Linked DNA regions of Homo sapiens: region 2 is linked to region 1. The links come from fine-mapping of genetic effects on gene expression. A gene starts in region 1. The other region holds a variant in brackets. All regions are shown on one strand. Distances are between the middles of the regions.

Region 1 (10,274 bases):
ACTTTCTCTTGCAGAGATTTGAGTTGCCGGTGCTGTTCCTTGGTGACCAAGATCCACCCACGCTCAATATCTGATACCGTCTATAGTAGAGACAAGGGGCAGGCAGTAGGAGGTCCCAGTCAGCAATCCAAGGAAAGCGTCTACCATTACCTCTGTCCAGCCTGACCCCTAGCCCCACACTTGAGCGACCTCTCTGCAGTAAGTCCTTGATCTTGTCAGCTTAATAAAAGTAGGGAGAGTAGATATTGTGCCAGCAGCACTGATAGTATTCTAGGAACTTCCCCACAAATTGGGAACAAAGACACGACAGCAGTTTTCTTGGGAGAGTGAGTCACCCGTTATTTTCTTCAGGGGAAGGGTTCTGAGGCAGCTCCAAGCTCACCTGAGCATAAAGCAGGTTCAGGCCAACCCGGTTCTCCATGACATCGTCATCATAGGCAGAGTCCCAATAACTGTGAGGCCAAGGGGTGGAAAGGGGTAATGGGGCTAAGCTGGGTTAAGGCAAGAGGTAGAATGGAAAATGGGCAAAACAGGAGCAATCTGGAACTATCAGGGGCTAATGGTATAGTGGGAGGAAGCTTGGGAGGCCTGGCAGAAACACCCAGCACTACACCCCCTTGTCCAGATTATTCTGTCTCAATATGTGGCCCAATAATCCAATCCAGCACAGCACCTCCCACCCCTCCCCTTCCAGGCCCAGCCCTGACCTCTTCCTTAGCACAATCTTATACTCTTGACTCCGAAGGCTGGTGACAGACACATAAGGCAGCTCAAACTCTTGCAACTTCCGTACAACTACAGGTTAAAAAAAAAAAAATGAAAATATAGTGAGATTTAAAGGAAGGGAAATCAAGAAAGAAGTGCCCTGAGGCAATGTTCATTCTGGGGGTGGGGGTGGGGAGTTAGGGGGGCTGCAAACTCTACTGAAGTACCCTTGTACTGCAGTCAAGTCCAGAGAAACTCACAAGAAAAGGCTCCATCCTCTTTTTCTCGAACTAAGAATAGACTAAAGTATCCAATCAAGTCATCTGGAAGATCCAGCTTTGCAGCTACAGCCTGGGGATAGGGATAGAAGTACAGCTCATCATACTGGCTGGTTCCAATCATTCTCCAAGCCCAGGACCCCAGGATGTAGGGGAAGAAGGGGCAGTGCTGAACAAGCGCCTCACCTCCAGGACATCCTCAGTCTGATCTGAAGTTAGCACGTTGACCAGAACTTTCTGCCCGTTGCTGAGCAGCACTTCCAAGGACACTTCCTCTGTGGGGACCTGCTGTGTCTCCTGTTGTGAGCACACATGGGGATGGGAAGCACTGCCTTGTCCCTTGCCTTGACCTATGCCCAACTCTATTTCTAGGTCCCTTGTGTGTCTTTATTCTCAGCTGCTTAAATATAGGCTGTGATTTCTTTGATTTCATAAGAATAGAAGTTCCATTCCATTAAAAAAGATGACTCCTCTGTTATTAAGATGACATGGCCTGGCTGGGTGTGGTGGCTCACACCCGTAATCCCAGCACTTTGGGAGGCCAAGGCGGGTGGATCACCTGAGGTCAGGAGTTCGAGACCAGCCAGGCCAACACGGCAAAACCCCGTCTCCACTAAAAATACAAAAATGAGCCGGACATGGTGGCAGGCGCCTGTAATTCTAGCTACTTGGGAGGCTGAGGCAGGAGAATCGCTTGAATCCGGGAGGCGGAGATTGCAGTGAGCTGAGATCGCACCACTGCACTCCAGCCTGTGCAAAAGAGCAAGACTCTGTCTCAAAAAAATAAAAGACATGACCTTCCAGCAAGGTCCTTTCCTTAAATCTTGGTCCCACCCAAAGCCCTACCTGTTGTGCCCGACGCAGGAAACTGTTGAAAGTCTCGCTGCTCCCAAGCAATGGGTCTTGCCGAACTACGAGGACAAGAGAACATTATTACAGGAACTTAGCACTCACTCTTGGCTCCCCAGTCCTCCTCTCAGTAGGTTCCCCCGACCCCATTTCCTGGGCTGATGGTGGCCTGCCACATCCCCCAGCTGGCCTCACCTCACTCACTGTTTGCATAAATTCTTCACCTGCCCCACCCTTGGCTGCCATCTAGGTGAGTCCAGTCTATAGAACTAGGGAAATAACAATGATGTTAATCTAAAGCACATCAGATACAAATTAAGTTCTCTCCACTGATATTAAGACTAGTGTTATACTAGTATTTCTCATAGATGTTAGTGCCCAAATTGTTTTGCTAGTACACAGAGTTACACATCCTCGTACACTATTTACTTTGCTAACTGCATAACAGATCAAACAAGAGCCTTCCTAGATCTAGAAATTAAATCAGGCCCTTCCACAGAACCAGCTGTTTTTAAGTCTCTCCCCATAGTCCTCAATATAGTCAACCTAGTTTCCTGCAACCACTCACCAGCTTGCATGTACTTCTCTAACTGCTCTCTCCTCTGTTCTACCTCAGCAGGAGTCAGAGAGAAAAGCTTCTTTGGGGGGAATGCAGGAAGCACATTGGCCCCATACTCCTTCCGAAGCTATTTAGAGAAAGAGATACAACCCTTCACATAAACACAGAAAATGAGATGAGGCAATCTACATATGCTCATAATGTTCTCTTGGGTGCCCCTCCCTTCCCTCAGTCCCTGTTCCCCTGTCTACCCTGGTCATCTGAGAAACAATTCCTTTGACAGCGGTAGCACCTCAAGGGAGCTGTCCTAGATATAAGTTGTGCTCTATTTTACTGTGTACAAGTCAGCCCCTCCACAGTACGGGGAGGATTTGTACTGGGCCAGGACCTATAGGGAGCCCCTTGACCACCTAGCAAGACTGTTCACTGAACCCTTAAAGGAAGGAAAGGGCTTTATAAAGTGCACAGTTAATAGCTAAGTCTGTTCACAAAATATCTTAGGACTTAAAGGGACTTTGCAGATCAAAGAATCCATCTTTCAGTTGTAGAAACTGAGGCCCAAAGAAATCAGTTTCTACAGGCCTCATGCCTGTAATCTCAGCATTTTGGGAGGCAAGGTGGGTGGATCACCTGAGGTCAGGAGTTTGAGACCAGCCTGGCCAACATAGTGAAACCCCTCTCTACTAAAAATACAAAAATTAGCTGGGTGTGGAGGCAGCCGCCTGTAATCCCAGCTACTCAGGAGGCTGAGGAAGGAGAATCGCTTGAACCCAGGAGGCAGAGGTTGCAGTGAGCCGAGATCGTGCCACTGCACTCCAGCCTGGGCAACAAGAGAGAAACTCCGTCCCAAAAAAAGATATCAGGTAACTTGTTCAGGGTTGCACAACTAATTATCAGTGGAGCTCTACTGAGTTAAATAGAGTTTAAGATCTGGTAAGGAAGGAGGAGAAACATTGCATCACAGATACATAACGATAATTGGCACAGCTAAACACACTGAAATGAGCCGAAGAACACAAAAGGAAATCGGTGAATCGTTTGTATAAGCAGGGAAAAGAATTTCAAGTTGCCGCTCAGATGACAGAAGGAATGTGCTTTGACAGCCTGGGTGGAGGTAGTGGGGGGAGGGGTTGGTTTGTCCATGCAGGGGTAAAGGCTACTAGAGCAGTAAGACTGGACAGAAAACCAGAATATAAGAACAGGAAGGAGCAGTTGTTGCGCGGACATTAAGCTTCTTAGGGAGTTCCCGGAAATGTCAGACAAGATAAACCAGGGCCCTACCCTGTGGCAGTGATTAAAGGGGAACTACAGCCTACGGGAACAAGAAGAGCGGGTAAAGGGAGACACTGATGTCCACGTGTAGGGAAGGGCTTGAAGCTGTCTCAAGGCAGGGGTGCTAGTCCCACCTGCTCGTGCAGCCCCAGGAGCTGGCTGTAGCGCACCCGACAGTGCAGGACTCCATTCACGTGAATGTTATAGGCCTGAGGACACAAAAGTAGTCAAGCATTTTAGGGTTGCGGTCTGCGCAACCCCCCTGAGAACCCTGGCCGGAAGTTGCCTGGCAACTCGCCGGAGTAACGCGCTAATCTCCCGAGGGATAGTTCGCTTGTTTTCGCCAGGGCCAAGTCCCAAAGCTGAAGAGCCAGTCCGGGGGAAATTCGGACGCTTGTGTTGCAGTCTCACTGCCCAAGAGGCCAGTGACGCCCACCAGGGCAGCTGCGGCCTAGCTCGGGGAAGCGACCCGGCCTAAGGGCCTACAGGAGCTCGGGCGACCACTGCACGAATCACACACATGAGATAAGCTCCCAGAGAGGCCGTCGGGAGTCGGCGGCCCAGGACCAGGCCCGAAGGGTGGCGGTCAGGCCTCAGAGGCCGCTCCGAGATGGCTCGGGCCCGTTATCCCCGCCCCTGCCCGGCCCGGCTCGGCTCCGGCCGCTCCTCACCACGTAGGCGGAGCCGCCGCTGTCCCCGCTGCGGGACTCGGTTTCGGGAATGGAAAAGTGCATGTTCCCTACGGCACGGCACGGCCGGGCTCCGGACTGTGAGGGCCGCAGCGGCTCTGCACGCTCCCCCTCCGCTGCTCAGCGAGTCCCCGCAGCCTCACTCGCCATTTTGGGAGCCCTGCGATCCGATGTGGGAAGGCGGTGGGACGTCGGTTCTGGGACGCAATCGCCTGGGCATGCTGGGAACTGTAGTCTAAAGGGCAAGAGCCACCTGTCCGGATAGGGAGCCCAAAGTGGAGTTGGCCCTCATTGCAACCCGTAGTGCGGGGCGGGGCCTCGGGGCCCGTCGGAAATTGTAGTCCGATTGGGGCTGCGCGCTTCGCTTCTGCGGCTCAGCCTCCAGCCCAGGTGGCGCTGTGGACCCTGCAGCCGCGGAGCGAGGCAGCGGGGCGGCTCCGTGACCACGGCGGGCGGAGCCTAGGACTGAGGGCGATGGCTGCTGTGGCCGTGGCTGTTCGCGAGGGTGAGTGAAGAGCCGGGCCTGCCTACTGGTACGCGGAGCCGACGAGCTCCGGACAGCTAGTGCCGGGCCTTGAGCGCCTTTGGGCCCCGCCGCTCCGTTCCAGCGCCACGCTGGGCTCCGGTCTACACAGTCTCGAGCGCAGTCCCGCGCCGCGCACCGGCTGGTTGCTGTGAGGAGGGTCGGTGACCCCTCCATTCCTTTGATCCGCCGCGCAGTGCGTCCCCACGCGGATCCCTGGCTCGCCTCGCGCCTGCCGGCGGATCCGTGGTCATGCCAACCCAGCAGCCGGCTGCGCCGAGTACTCGTGCCCCCAAACCCTCCCGGAGTCTCTCTGGCTCACTTTGTGCCCTGTTTTCTGATGCAGACTCGGGATCCGGGATGAAGGCGGAGCTTCCCCCTGGGCCTGGGGTAAGTGAGGCTTCCCTCCCAAGCCGCCTGCCAAGCGCTACGCAGGAGGCTGTGCCAGCTTTATTCCGCCCCAGCTCCCATCCCGTGTCGGTTTATTTCTCAGTAAAGCCAGGAGATTTTACAGAGGTCTTGCAACCCTAGGGATATATGATTCTGTCCCTGGAGGAGAAACGTCAGCCTCTGTGGATGTAAGCTTGCAACAGGTAGCTTGTGGAAGTTAGGAAGAACTAGGGATTTAACCATGTGGAAATCTTGTAAGCATCCAATAGTATTTGTTCCCCTTTGGAATTGTTGGGGAAGAGCAGTATCCTATGTCTGTGTCTCAGGCAGTGGGGAGGGAAATGACCAAAGAAGAAAAGCTGCAGCTTCGGAAGGAAAAGAAACAGCAGAAGAAGAAACGGAAGGAAGAAAAGGGGGCAGAACCAGAGACTGGCTCTGCTGTATCTGCAGCCCAATGTCAAGGTGAGTGAGGGGTCTCTTTTAAAGGGCTGGGGTGTGGAGCTGGTAGAGGGATGTGGTGGGAGAGATAAGGGAGAGACAGGACAAAGTTGATTTGAGCAAGTGTGTAAAGCAAAGAGGTTTACAAGGAGAGAAGCTAGTTTTAGCTGGGGCACGGATATCACCTGCCTGCAGCTTGGGCATTTTTTTTTTTAATGCTTTTAGTAGGCCCAACCAGAGAACTGCCAGAATCGGGCATTCAGTTGGGCACTCCTCGGGAGAAAGTTCCAGCTGGTCGGAGTAAGGCCGAACTTCGGGCTGAGCGTCGAGCCAAGCAGGAGGCCGAGCGGGCCCTGAAACAGGCAAGAAAAGGGGAACAAGGAGGACCACCTCCTAAGGCCAGCCCCAGCACAGCTGGAGAAACCCCCTCAGGTATCTTCCCTTCATTTTAAGACCTCCCTTACTCCTAATTATAACGCCAGCTCAGGCTGCCCAATAGTAAAACAGCTCTCCCCTCTCATTCTTGGGACCCAGAGTTCTGAATTGTTCCTGCAACCCCATTATCCTATCCCTATTTCCTTTTCTACCCTATTCTCCCGTTTTCTCCACCTCATCCTGTTTTTCTTGATGCCCCTTATACCCTAAGAGCAAATTACACATTTCAAGACCTACAGTGTCCTGAAAACATGATGATTATCTTTCAGGAGTGAAGCGTCTCCCTGAGTACCCTCAGGTTGATGACCTACTTCTGAGAAGGCTTGTTAAAAAACCAGAGCGTCAACAGGTAGGAAGTGGGTTTGGTGCCTGGCTAGAAAGAGCCTAGGGAAATGGACTGGAGGGAGGAAAGGTGCTGGGTGCAAAGTGAGAAGGATAGGTGCTTGGGTCAGAGTAGTCTTACTGTTCACTTCCTTTCCAGCTTTATCCCATCCTTTTTAAACTCTGGGCCATTGGTCCTGTTCCCTTGTTTTGTCAAGGTTCCTACACGAAAGGATTATGGATCCAAAGTCAGTCTCTTCTCTCACCTACCCCAGTACAGCAGACAAAACTCTCTGACCCAGTTTATGAGGTAGGATCCTATGAAATTGTCATAACTTTTGAGTCTGAGGAGTTTTAGTAAGTCAGTATTGAAAGTTTCTAGTAATCTGAGATGGACTCTGTAGGAAAAAGTATGAACCCAAGGCAGAACTGTAGAGGAGTGGGGAAATCTGCTAGTGAAGGGAGTTCCTTTTCATCAGGGGCAGGTGGGCAGTAGATGCTCAAGCTCCCTTTCAAAGTATGTGACACCGCCATCCCATCAGCATCCCATCCTCTGTGATCCACCCAGCCATGGTGCGACTCGGCCTGCAGTACTCCCAGGGCCTGGTCAGTGGCTCCAATGCCCGGTGTATTGCCCTGCTTCGTGCCTTGCAGCAGGTATGTCCCATCCTGTTCTCTCTTATGATCCAACCCCACCTCCCCCAATACTACCCCAGCTTCTGTCACCCAAGGTCATCTCTGGGGGACAGAGGGAATACTCCTACCCTCAGAACATTTTCCTCAGTGAAGCTTACCCCCAGCCCCCGTTCAGAGATCTTTATTAAGGGGTATTTTGCAGATCACCTTGTGTACCCTATAGGTGATTCAGGATTACACAACACCGCCTAATGAAGAACTCTCCAGGGATCTAGTGAATAAACTAAAACCCTACATGAGGTAGGGACAACACTATAAGTCCACTCCCAGCTCGCCCAATCTTTGTCTTGTACTCTTTTTCCTGCTTTTCTATCTCTCTTTTCATTTTGTGTTCTATTTTCTTTTTAAAGACTTTTTTTTTAAATGTGAAGGCTTTGTAAGTTGTGAAGAGTTGCGCAGATATAAGGTATTGCTGTTGTATTATAGCTTCCTGACTCAGTGCCGTCCCCTGTCAGCGAGCATGCACAACGCCATCAAGTTCCTTAACAAGGAAATCACCAGTGTGGGCAGTTCCAAGCGGGAAGAGGAGGTGATGAGTATGAGAAATAAGGAAGGCATGCACCTGTGGGTAAAATTAAGAAACATGTTAAAAACTCCCGGGAAGGCCAACGTAAGCCTTTTTTTGCCCTAGTCAAGGGTTAAGGAATGGTTTGGCCATTCTGACTTGTGCCATCTCTGAGCCCTCTATAGGCTTGTCATCATACACATATTCAAGCACCTGGCATGATCATCAGAGGGATAAAAGTGTCCATTTCTTGTTCACTAAGGATTTTACTCCATTTAGGCCAAGTCAGAACTTCGAGCAGCCATTGATCGGTATGTGCAAGAGAAGATTGTGCTAGCAGCTCAGGCAATTTCACGCTTTGCTTACCAGAAGATCAGTAATGGAGATGTGATCCTGGTATATGGATGGTATGGTCCAGACCTTGTGACTGAGCAGATTGGGAGTTGGAATGATCTGAAGAAGGGACTACCCACTTGCCTTTGGGAATAAGTTAGTCATCAGTTACTGACATTTATAACTGAATCCTCCTCTTCATTCACTCTAGCTCATCTCTGGTATCACGAATTCTTCAGGAGGCTTGGACAGAGGGCCGGCGGTTTCGGGTGGTAGTGGTGGACAGCCGGCCATGGCTGGAAGGAAGGCACACACTACGTTCTCTAGTCCATGCTGGTGTCCCAGCCTCCTACCTGCTGATTCCTGCAGCCTCCTATGTGCTCCCAGAGGTAAGTACAGAGGAAAAGGACTCCAAAGTTGGCGGTGAAAAGGTGTAGTAGTATAGACATAATCTCACCTTCCCAAAGTTACAGTTTTGTTTTTGTTTTGAGATAAGGATGGAGTGCAGCGACGTGATCACAGCTCACTGCAGTCTTGACCTCCTGGGCTCAGGTGATCTTCCCACCTCCGCCTCTGAGTAGCTGGGACTACTGGTGTGTGCCACCATGCCCAGCTAGTTTTTTATTTTTCTTGTAGAGATGGGATATCGCTACATTGCCCAGGCTGGAACTCCTGGGCTCAAGCAGTTCCCCCTGTCTCGGCCTCCCAAAGTACTGGGATCATAGGCATGAGCCACTGTGCCCAGCCACAATTATTTAAAAATATTAGAATTATATAGCCCTGGCTTGGTGCCATGGCTCAATGCCTGCAATCTCAGCACTAAGGCAGGAGGATCACTTGAGCCCAGGAGTTCAAGACCAGCCTGCTCAACATAATGAGACCCTGTACACACACACACACACACACACACACACACACACACACACACACACCCCACCCCACCCCCACCCCGGGCATGGTGGCATGCGCATGTAGTTCCAGCTACTTAGGCTGAGGTGAGAGGACTGCTTGAGTGCGTGCGCGCGCGCACGCACACACACACACACACACACAGCTACTTAGGAGGCTGAGGTGAGAGGACTGCTTGAACACACACACACACACACACACCCGGGCATGGTGGCATGCGCATGTAGTTCCAGCTACTTAGGAGGCTGAGGTGAGAGGACTGCTTGAGCCCAGGAGGTTGAGGCTACAGTGAGCTGTCATTGCACCACTGCACTCCAGCCTGGGTGACAGAATGAAACCCTGTGTCAAAAAAAATAATTATATAGCTCTGTTTCTATTTAATTGGAAAAACACTGACAGTATATTACAGCAGTCTAGCTATTGCAAAAACATTACATTAAACTAGCAACCAGGAAGAGGGAACAAGACAAAAGTAACTTCAAAGTTTACTTTTCCTGTGGGAGATTTGGTGGGTCAGTGGTCAGGTGTTTTCACAGAAGAAAAGCCATCATTAAGATTTATTAGGCCGGGCACAGTGGCTCAAGCCTGTAATTCCAGCACTTTGGGAGGCCGAGGAGGGCAGTTCACGAGGTCAGGAGTTCACAATCATCCTGGCTAACACAGTGAAACCCCGTCTCTACTAAAAATACAAAAAATTAGCCGGGCGTGGTGGTGGGCGCCTGTAGTCCCAGCTAATCTGGAGGCTGAGTCAGGAGAATGGCGTGAACCCAGGAGGCAGAGCTTGCAGTGAGCCGAGATCATGCCACTGCACTCCAGCCTGGGCGACAGAGCGAGACTCCATCTCAAAAAAAAAAAAAAAAAGGATTTATTAATTGCCGGACTCAGTGGCTCACGCCTGTTATCCTGGCACTTTGGGTGGCTGAGGCGGGCAGATCACCTGAGGTTGGGAGTTCGAGACCAGCCTGACCAACGTGGAGAAACCCCGTCTCTACTAAAAATATAAAAATACAACAAATCAGCTGGGAGTGGTGGTGCATGCCTGTAATCCCAGCTACTCGGGAGGCTGAGGCAGGAGAATCACTTGAACCCAGGAGGCAGAGGTTGTGGTGAGCCGAGATCGCGCCATTGCACTCCAGCCTGGGCAACAAGAGCAGAACTTCATCTCAAAGAAAAAAAAAAAAAAGATTTATTACTTGTTGTCTGTTTTTGTTTCTTTCCCTTCTTTTCACAGGTGTTGAGATTTATTACTTGTCTTAATGTTGCTGTCCTGTAAGTAGGGGACCTTATTTTGCATTGATACAACAATGACATTTTTTTCTTCCTCTTCTCCTGTGAAACAGGTTTCCAAGGTGCTATTGGGAGCTCATGCACT
Region 2 (10,274 bases), 120 kb after region 1:
TTTTGGACTCATCAGAGGTAGCCCCCTCCCTGATGTCCAGCTGGGAGCCTTAGCCCAGGCTGGGTGAGACGCCACTGCCCACGTCAGGGTGTGGGAGGCTGGCGAAGCGAAGGGCTGGCAGTCCATCACGCCCGGCGGCAAGGCCGCCCCAGCTGCTCGCCATGCTTTGCTGGTTCCTGATACTTTCTCATTTTACGTCTCATTGATTATAGGCCCCAGGTGACAGGATGGGGGTGGGGAAGAGTGAGGAAATCGAGGAGAGGGAAGGAGGGTGGGGAACAGGAGGACTCGATTTTCACCCTATGAAATGCTTTAAGCCACAGCCTGTCCTATCTGTGCGATGCTGGGTCCCTTTGCAGGGGAATGCTCAGGGCAGGTGAATGCCTTCACCAAGCATCCAGTCCATCTTCTGCCCATAGAAGGAGGAGACTCAGGGAGGGAAAAAGACTTCCCCAGGGTCAGCCAGCACATGCCCAGGCTCTCATTCCCACTCCAGGCCCCTTTGAAGCTCTTGCCTAGTTGAGTTTCTCAGCAAATCTTTCCTCAGCCCTTCCAGCAGCCTGCTGCCGCTGGCACTCCCGTCCTGGGGCTCTGGGGTCAGACCCTCTGGTTCTGCTCTGCCTTTACTATTATTCTAGTCACAGTTAACCTCTCTGCGTCTCAGCTTTCTCAATTATAAAATAGTGATTACGTGATATCATGGGTGTGAATGTGCCTGGTATATAGAAGGTGTATATAAGAGTTAGCTTTTGGGTTGAACCCAGGATGCAGGGGAGAGATTTCAGGAGAAGAGAGTGGCCCGGCACCCTGACAGCAGGGACAGGAAGCAGCAATCATTGAGCTTATTTTGTGCAAGGCACTGTGGTGCGGACAGTATCCTGTGCACCTGACAGATGGAGAAGCAGGCTCACCTGCCCATGGTCGTGCAGCTGGTTCCACTCGGTTCTGAGTTCTGGCCCCTGGACGTCCCCAGCCCTCTCTCTATGCCATCCTGCCTTTCCACTCACCTTCGGGCATCGGGAGGATGAGGAGACAGGTCTCTGGAGCATTCTCCCACCTTCACACTGGGCCACCATCCCCGGGAGCCCAGGAAATCCTTATCTGCAGAGCTGCCTGCACTCCCCCATTATCCTCCTATCCTCCTTCTCCACTCGCTTATCCAGAAGTCCCTTTCCCCTGGGTGCCCTTCCTTGATGATAGATGGAGGAGGGAGAGTCGAGGGGAAGGGACTGGGCCTGGGAGGGGTGAGGGGAAGGCAGGGGAGAGCAACGCAGGTGGGGGAGGGCCCATCCCTCAGCCCAGCCCCAGCTCTTTACACAGCTGATTAACTAGGGGAGGGGTGGGCTTTCGGGTCAGAGAGGAACCAGAGAAGAGGGACAGCCAGGAAAGGGGTGAAATGGAGAGTGGAGGGAGAGAGAGGCAGGCCGGGTTTCCCTGCTGAGAGCTGCAGGGCTATTCAAAGGAGAAACTGGAGATCAAAGGGCCAGAATGCAGGGTGCGGACCTGAGAGGCTTCGTGCTGCAGTGACTGGGCGGAGGAGCATGGGCACATGGGCAGGTCCTGCCCTTCTCCCAAGGCTGCCCACCTGGGGGTGGCCCAGGGTGAGTCCTGCACCACGTTTAAGAGGCGAAGGCCAAGGCCCAGGGCCCAGCCGGCAGGGTCAAGAGGAAGCCCGGGTGATAAGCACCACCCTCCAGCAGCCCTCCCGCCCGGTCAGGGCCCCGGTGCAGCCGGCTTAAAGGAGGCATTTGGCCCTCCCGCTTCCTAGAGCCCGGCTGGCTGGGGAGCAGCGCCCCCAACTGGGGCATACGCCACCGCAGCGGCAGAGGCAGCCGGAAGTCTTTGCAGGGAGTCTCAGGACTGGGGTCAGGACGGGAAGACCCTTTTCCCCTCCGCCAGGCAGAGACCCTCACTGTGGAGAACTGTAGTCAGGGTGTTCCTTTTATAGTTGGAGTACTCTTTCTTAACTCTCCAACCTCCCTTCCCCCAACTCTGGCAGTTCCCAGGGCCTCCCTGTCCCTGGCTTAAGTCCCAGGGACACCTCGTCAGTACCTGGTCAGTACCTTCCAAGGGGTGCTTGGAGGGGCAGTTCCCAGGCCCCAACAGGGCAAAGCCTGAGGCCCCAGATGCAGCTGTGTGGGGGCTTTTTCCTTTTTTGAGATGGGGTCTTGCTATGCTGCCCAGGCTAGCCTCAAACTCCTGGGCTCAAGCAATCCTCCTGCCTCGGCTTCCTGAGCAGCTGGGACTCCACGTGTATACCACCACACCCCCAGATGCAGCTGTGATCACCAGCAATCCCATACACAAAGCAGGCCCCGTTTCCTTAACTGGCAAGAGAAAGAACGTGGGGAGAGTGGGTAGGCAGGAAGGCCCGGGTTGCCAGAGCCTGTGCCTCCCTCCTTCAGCCCTGGTCCTAGCCTTTCTCTGCTCTTGCCATTCCCCGTGTGGTACCCCAGACCCCCTCATCTGCTCTCTGGCTACAGCATCCTGGGGACAGGAAGAAGCCCAGACCTGGAGAAGCTCACTCAGAGGACACGACCCAAACAGCCTTAACCTCCGATTCCATTCTTTTGTTTGCTTTGGCTCAACAACGATGGCTATAAATTTTTAAAGGACTGTAGCCAAAAGCCTGGGGAGAAATAGAAGGGAACTGAACCCAGAATATTAAAAAGATAAGAAAGCTTACCAAAATAAGCAGGGTTCAGACCCTACAACAACAAACTTGCTTTTTCCTGACCACGGAGTCTGCCCAAGCATGGCCTCCCTGCTTTCCCCCATCCTGCTGGACCAGGACGTGGTCACACAGGACTGCTGGGAGACACAGTAAAACGGTGAGTGGCCTACTGACGGCACACTCCTTGAAGGAAGGCATGCTCCCCCAGCACTTAGCTCACAGCCAGACACCAAGTACATGCTCAGTATGACTGCTGGTGATGGAAGGAATGGGTGGAAGGATGGTGAACAGATAAATGTCAGGCCAATGCAAAGTCCATAAAATATCTTCTAATCCCCAGCTCCTACCAATGGGCCAACAAGCAGGTTTCATACATGCTGATTCCCGAGGTATAAATCTGTATCTGATGGTAGCATTTGATGGTAGCAATTCAGGTGCTCTCAAGCAGGCAGTCACTTCTATTTCTTTTCTTTTTTTTTTTTTTTTGAGATGGAGTCTCGCTCTGTCGCCCAGGCTGGCGTGCAGTGGCGTGATCTTGGCTCACTGCAAGCTCCGCCTCCCGGATTCACACCATTCTCCTGCCTCAGCCTCCCGAGTAGCTGGGACTACAGGTGCCTGCCACCACACCCGGCTAATTTTTTTTGCATTTTTAGTAGAGATGGGGTTTCACTGTGTTAGCCAGGATGGTCTCGATCTCCTGACCTCGTGATCCGCCCGTCTCGGCCTCCCAAAGTGCTGGGATTACAGGCGTGAGCCACCGCGCCCGGCCAGCTCATTTCTATTTCTTGGGTCCTCCAGGGAGTGCAAGCCCTTCTACGCCCCTGCCCTGGACATGGCTTCCCCCAGCCCCACCACAAATTCAGTGTTTAGCTTCCCCTTGAGTCCTGCTTGTGACTCTATTAATCTCCTGCGGATTCATCACAGCTTCCCTGACCTTCTCTAAAGCCTTTGAGCTCCCAATCTCAACACCCATTTTTTTCCTTGCCACTTGGTAAATGACCTCAGCTTCTAAACCAGTCCCTCAGTAACCTCGTGAAACCTGGTTACCACCACAAAGCATCAGCCTAACAACTATTGTGACAAGGTCCTTGCCTCAAATTTCCTTCTCTTTGGCCTGCTACAGGATTTGAATCTGCCAATACGTCTCCCGTCCCTCACACACTTGGAATTCTGGGCCTCTTGAGGGCTTTCTCCTGAGTTCTCCTGCGGCCCTTGCTGAAATTGAGGCTTGCCGCTATTCTCTTGGTGAACAAATATGCATATTTTAAAAGCTTCAATTACCTTTATGTTGATGCTTCGGTCAACACATTTACTGAGCACCTACTATGTGCTCAACCCTGTTCTGGTGTTTGGGATACATCAGTGAGTAAAGTCCCTGCTCTCATGGCACTTGTGTTGTCACATATAAATGCCACCTGTCTCTATTGTGCTTGCTCCAACTCCCCAGCTCCATTACCTCCATGACATCTCCATATAGATGGCCCACGGCAGCTAGGTATCATGCCCAAATGGAATCAGCCCTCCCCTACCCCAAACTGGCTATCTGGTCTACCTTCATCAGTCTTCTTTCTTCCAGTCTTGAGGTCCCACACTGTGCAGTCATTCTTCACTCTCCTCTCTCCTCAGTGTTATAACATCTATTCCTATCTCTGAATCTAGAACCTCTTCACCCATGATCTGTATTTACTGCAACAACTTCCTAATTGGCGTCCTGATGGTGAAATGGCTCCTTTCTCTCTTCTAGGCACTGTTGCCAGACGAGTCTTCCATTAAGCACTCATCCCATCCTGGCCCTCATTCTCTGCTCCTCACCTCCACCAGCCAATGCCCCCTCATTGTCCCAGGGGATATTACTGCAGAACTACAGACACTTTGCAATTTTACACTGGGAATTGCCAACTACCCTTTTAAAGCCTATAGGTGGGTTGGGCATGGTGGCTCATGGCTGTAATCCCAGCACTTTAGGAGGCTGATGCAGGAGGATCACTTGAGCCCAGGAATAGACCAGCCTGGCCGGGCGCGGTGGCTCATGCTTGTAATCCCAGCACTTTGGGAGGCTGAGGCGGGCGGATCACGAGGTCAGGAGATCGAGACCACGGTGAAACCCCATCTCTACTAAAAATACAAAAAATTAGCCGGGCGTGGTGGCAGGTGCCTGTAGTCCCAGCTACTCGGAGAGGCTGAGGCAGGAGAATGGCGTGAACCCGGGAGGCGGAGCTTGCGGTGAGCCAAGATCGCGCCACTGCACTCCAGCCTGGGCAACAGAGCAAGACTCCGTCTCAAAAAAAAAAAAAAAAAAAAAAAAAGTAATAGGCCAGCCTGGGCAACATGGCGAATCCCCATCTCTATAAAACAAAACAAGAACAAAAATTAGCCAGGTGTGGTGGCATGTGCCTGTGGTCCCAGCTATTCTGGAGGCTGAGTGGGGAGGATAACTTGACTCCAGGAGTTTGAGACCAGCCTGGACGACATGGCAAAACCCCATCTCTACAAAAAAAACACAAAAAATTAGCCGGGCATGGTGGTATGGCCATGGTGGTCCCACCTCCTTGGGAGGCTTAAGTGGGAGGATCACTTGAGCCCATGAGGTCAAGGCTGCAGTGAGCTGAGATCG[T/C]GCCACTGCACTCCAGCCTGGGTGACAGAATGAGACCCTGTCTCAAAAACAAAATTTTAGTATAAAAAATAAAAGCCCACAGGCATACTGACTTGCCATGGTTGCAGGTAGTTAGTTGTAAGGGCCAGGACTAGAGTGCAGCTGACAAAGCTCCCGGTGGACTACCTATGTTGAGGGGGATGTCTCCTTCACTAGGGTGGACAGTGAAGAGGTGGGAGAAAATGGCTGTAATAGCAACCCAACGTTAGCCACACTTCTTTCAAGGTGGGGGATAGTCAAAGGATTCATCCAAGTGTCAAAGGGATGTATCTGTAAAGCGCTTAGAACAGTGCTTGGCATATAAATGTTTCTTATAGAAGAAATAGATCAAACCTCTTAAGTACCTCAGGAAGCAAACTAACTTTTTATGCTTCATGACAATTACATGGCAGATATGAAGTTGTTTCTCAGTGGATGTGGAACAGGCCCAAAGGTATTGTATTAAAGGGCTAATTTTGGCTGGGTGCGGTGGCTCATGCCTGTAATCCTAGCACTTTGGGAGGCTGAGGCGGGCAGATCACTTGAAGTCAGGAGTTCAACACCAGCCTAGCCAACATGGCAAAACCCCATCTCTACTAAAAATACAAAAAGTTAGCTGGGTGTGGTAGCACATGTCTGTAGTCCCAGTTACTCGGGAGACTGAGGCAGGAGAATCACTTGAACCTGGGAGGCGGAGGTTGCAGTGAGCCAAGATTGCACCACTGCACTCCAGCCTGGGCAACAGAGCGAGATGCCATCTCAAAACGATAAAAATTTTAAAAAATAAAGGGCTAATTTTGGTTTTTGCTGGTAAGTTTTTTCATTTTGTTTCCCAATATAATGAGATTTACTTTCTGGTCATACGGGAAAAAACTTTATTCAACTCAGAGCTGAGCTATGATTAGGAGAGCCAAAGAAAGGCTCAGGACAGGAACATCTCCCACCACTTAGCAACTAAGTAAAATGCGTCCGCTACTTGGCAGAAAACACTGCTTCTACTTGAGGGTGAGGCTATCCAAGTTCTGTGGGAATCTGTGTGCGAGTCCCAAGTACTCATGAGTACAATTGGGAAAATAATCTCTGACTTGTTCTAAGAGTTTAAGCAAGGAAATGGAGTCTCTAGAAAGAAAAAGAAGAGTTCTGGAAATGGTACTCTATTTTCCAACCAATAAAGTCCTCCAGGTACCTGAGGGAGACCTTGTCAGGCAGGAATCTGGGTTTGGAAAGACTGGAAAGGGTTAACATTAGCAGGACTGGAGGCCTCCACACTCTAGGACTTAGCATTATACTTAATACCCTCCTTCAAATAGTACCTGTGGTTGTAAATTAATATTTTTGTTGGAATTGACATCCAAGCCCCCTGTTCTGGTCCGTCAGACTCTCAACCCTCACAATACTCAGTAGGAATCTCCTGCTGCGTTCAGTGTCTCCTCACTGTACCGCAGACACAATTTCCATTCCTCTCGAACTGTACTGTAAAGGAGACTCTTCGTCCTTCCTCACGACACAGCTCACACCCCACGGCACAGGGTTCTCCGACTCCGTATCTGTGCTGACCTCTTCTGGAAACTGGTTCCCTACAGGACTGCTTAGATTTGTGGCTTGTCTTTCCCACTGGTTTTTGGATGCCCTTAAAGCCAGAAATGACCTTTCCTTTTAACAGAAAGGTGGGTTGTTAAGTCAAGAAGTCCTGCGTATGAGTCTCAAGGTGAGTGGCCCAGCAAGCTACCACCTTTTTTTTTTTTTTTGGAGATAAGAGTGTCACTGTTGCCCAGGCTGGAGTGTAATGGTGCCATCTTGCCTCACTGCAACCTCCACCTCCTGGGTTCAAGCGATTCTCCTGCCTCAGCCTCCCAAGTAGCTGGGATTACAGGCGCACACCACCAAACACAGCTGATTTTTATATTTTTAGTCGACAGGGTTTCACCATGTTGGCCAGGCTGGTCTCAAACTCCTGACCTCAGGTGATCCGCCTGCCTCAGCCTCCCAAAATGCTGAGATTACAGGGGTGAGCCACCGGCCCCCACCACTTCTCTGAGCCAGTGTCCACATCTGTGAAATGGGTGGAAGGCTGGTGTGAGAAATGAGAATACGCATCAAGTTCCTGTTCACACTAAGTTCTCAAAAAACGAGGTCCTTCTCCTTTTCTCATCTCTAGAATACGCTGTTACTCTCTGGATGAAGTAGGTGATTCCTGAATGGTGTCAGAGCAGTTTGCACTATCATGTGCCAGTGTGCAGCAGTTTAATCTGTAGAAGCCACTGGAAGCCTTATGACCCGAGGCTGAAAACTGAGGGTGAGAATTGCCTTGTTCTTCCTTGTACTCCCACTGCACATGGTGCTTTGTACCCACAGAGTGCTAAGTTTTGTTGGAACAAGAAATGAGATTTCTCCAATGCTACTCAAGTTCACTGGAGGGCACAGCTGCTCCTCAGAAGCCCTCACCCACAGACACATAAGCTACTGCCCTTAGGCTGCTGCCCTGGGGTCTCCAAGCCAAAGTGCTCCTCAGCCCTCCATGGCATCTGCCCCTCTGTCCAATGTCAGGCAGAGGCTCCCAGGGATGGGAAATAGGAGGGGCTCCTAATAGTGACAGTGGCTGAAGAACTCCAGGGTGGTTTTGAGAATGCAATGGCAGCCTTAGCCACTGGAGGAGGACTAACCAGAAAGAGTGAGGAAGAGTCCAGGCCTGGCCTCAGACAGGCCGCAGTGCTCAGCCTTCCTTTTACCCTGATGAGTGTTCTCCCAGTGTCAGGAAGAGGGCAGAACTCTCTGTCAGGTCTTTGAGTCAACTGAATTGAGGAAGGAGGGCTGGACACCAGCCAGAGCCCCCAGGTAAGCGCTGGCATCAGCACGACACAGGACTCAGAGAGCACAGAGTTAACACGCTCCTGCCGAGTCCCAAAGAGTCACGAGTGTGAAAATGCCGAGTGTGGGCACGCAGCCCTAGCCAGAGCCCTGCCTGGTGAGGCTGCTCTTATAATTTGGGAATCTGCTCAATTTTCTAAAAGAAAGCTCTGTTCTACTACACTCAGCATCAAGGGACAGCTCGGCTGTTTATTAAGTCAGTAGAAAAATGACTGTACAGGTTTAAGGTGCAGGAATGAAGATGGGGCAGACTGGGCCCCAGCATCTGAGGCCCCACCCCCATGCCAGAGAGCTCCAGTCCAGAGCCTGAAGTGTGGTCAGCACATGTGAGCTATCTGGATGTCCAGGAATATCTAAGTGTGCTGCCCCCGTAGGAGGCACTGGAATTCCTTGCCCAGCAGCTGGGCCTAAAGAGAAGAGGCTGAGGAAGCCAGGCCCTAGAAACGGCCCAGCACGGTGGCTAACAGAGCCATGCGGATGTACATGCCGTTCTCAGCCTGGCGGAAGTAGGCTGCGCGGGGATCCGAGTCCACTTCCACGCTGCAAAAAAAAAAAAAAAAAAAAAGGAAGTGTTATCGTGCAGCCCATGGATGGCTTGTCCAGGACTAAGTCTCCTCCCGTCCACCAGCCCCGAGGCAGTCTCTGACTCTGATGCTGCACCACCTTATCTCGTTGACACGGGGCATCGGGTGCATCACCACCATCTTCTTCTTGGCCCGGGTCATGATGTGGGGAGTGAGGATGAACTGACCAAAGCACTGCAAAGCAGATGGGGTCCCCATTAGTGCCTTGGGGTAGGAGTGGCTACAGAGGACACAAGTCTGGGCTCCACTGGGGTCCCCTCCACACCCACATGCAGCTATGGCAATTGACAGATGTGAAGTTTAACAGCTCTGACCCAGCCCTCAGCCCAGCCTTTCTGTCCTCATATCTGATGCCCTACGGCAGCAGCCCTGGCTTCTTCCTCAAGCCCAGCACTCACAGCTTCGTACTCCTGGGTAGAGCCAAATCGTTCCTTCTGGATTCGAGTCATGTAGAGCACATCAGTGTCAGGCAGCGCCTCCTCAATGCTCTCGAATTCCTCCTGGAGGGTGAGGAGAGCCATGGTGGATGCAGCGCTGGGCTCTGACTGCCCAACCCACATCTCCATGGCTTCCAGGCAGGGCTGTGAGGGTCTCACCTGCTTGGTGCCGCGGGAGGCCACGAAGGCCCGCACAGTGGGTGGCATGCGCAGGCTGGGAGGTGCCACGTAGCGCAGGCTGACACGATACTGGGTGAGCAGGCAGGCCAGGGAATGTACTGTGCGTCCGTGCTTCAGGTCACCCACCATCGTGATCTAGGAGAGGAATCCAGTCACCACAGGGATCCCAGACTGAGTGCCCCCCGACATCATTTCCAAGCTTTTAAAAGCCTCTGGAGCAGAATGAAGGCCTCCTTGATGCAGCTGTCCTGTACCGGGGTAACCACTTCCTGCCTCCCTCTCTAGATCGTCCCCTGGCAGGGATCCAAACCCTGCCACCACCCTCACCGTCATGCCATTGACAGTTCCCAGCTCCTCACGGATGGTGAAGATGTCCAGCAGGGCCTGGGTGGGGTGCTCTCCGACCCCATCCCCAGCATTGATCACTGGCCTCCGGCAGTGCTTGGCGGCCAGCTGGAAAAAAGGGGAAAATCCTGTCTTTTGCAGCTCAGAGGCCCCCCAACTGCCAGTCCCCCTCTTCTGGGGTCCCCTCACTCATCTGGCCCAAAACACAGAAAACGTGGGCAGAAGGGTTCTCATGCCCCTGGGTCCAGCCTTCTTAACCCCATCTCAGTACCCAGGCTGGCCTCACCTCCACTGCTCCAGGCTGGGGGTGCCGGAGCACGACGACGTCGGCATAGCAGCTCATGGTCTGCACGGAGTCAGCCAGGGATTCGCCCTTCTGGACGGACGATGTGGCTTCCGAGAAGCTGAGCACAGCACCTCCCAGCCGGGCCATGGCTGCTGCAAAGGAGCTGCTGGTCCGTGTGCTCACTTCATAGAACATGGAGGCCATGACCTTCCCCTAGGGAAAGAGCAAGATGGAAGGTGTACGTATGCGTGTCCACCCTGGGGAAACC

What was found.
Region 2: its variant is fine-mapped to the expression of SNX17 in whole blood (INTERVAL, PIP above 0.99).

What each region holds. Positions count from the first base shown.
Region 1 is chr2:27,364,867-27,375,140 of GRCh38, reverse strand. It overlaps SNX17 (sorting nexin 17), which reads right to left and starts at 4,525. Exons shown (of 15, transcript NM_014748.4): 1 at 4,335-4,525; 2 at 3,798-3,872; 3 at 2,401-2,518; 4 at 1,830-1,894; 5 at 1,170-1,280; 6 at 966-1,056; 7 at 708-795; 8 at 383-452; 9 at 1-80. The coding sequence starts at 4,397. EIF2B4 (eukaryotic translation initiation factor 2B subunit delta) reads left to right here and starts at 4,803. Exons shown (of 13, transcript NM_001034116.2): 1 at 4,803-4,857; 2 at 5,222-5,265; 3 at 5,592-5,727; 4 at 5,929-6,135; 5 at 6,408-6,487; 6 at 6,678-6,769; 7 at 7,002-7,116; 8 at 7,319-7,395; 9 at 7,582-7,684; 10 at 7,940-8,067; 11 at 8,205-8,382; 12 at 10,243-10,274. The coding sequence starts at 4,827. GTF3C2-AS2 (GTF3C2 antisense RNA 2) reads right to left here. Exons shown (of 4, transcript NR_183827.1): 4 at 7,261-7,717. RefSeq lists enhancers at 4,143-4,232, 4,453-4,512, 3,634-4,595, 4,533-4,622, 4,843-5,122 and 1 more.
Region 2 is chr2:27,241,856-27,252,129 of GRCh38, reverse strand. CAD (carbamoyl-phosphate synthetase 2, aspartate transcarbamylase, and dihydroorotase) reads right to left here. Exons shown (of 44, transcript NM_004341.5): 39 at 10,007-10,219; 40 at 9,703-9,828; 41 at 9,355-9,510; 42 at 9,157-9,258; 43 at 8,838-8,932; 44 at 8,187-8,714. The coding sequence ends at 8,612. Among named protein-coding and RNA genes, the nearest start is that of SLC30A3, 16 kb to the left of the region's middle. RefSeq lists enhancers at 1,084-1,877, 1,878-2,672, 8,294-9,493 and a silencer at 2,068-2,248. The variant T/C (reference allele first, on the strand shown) is at 5,289.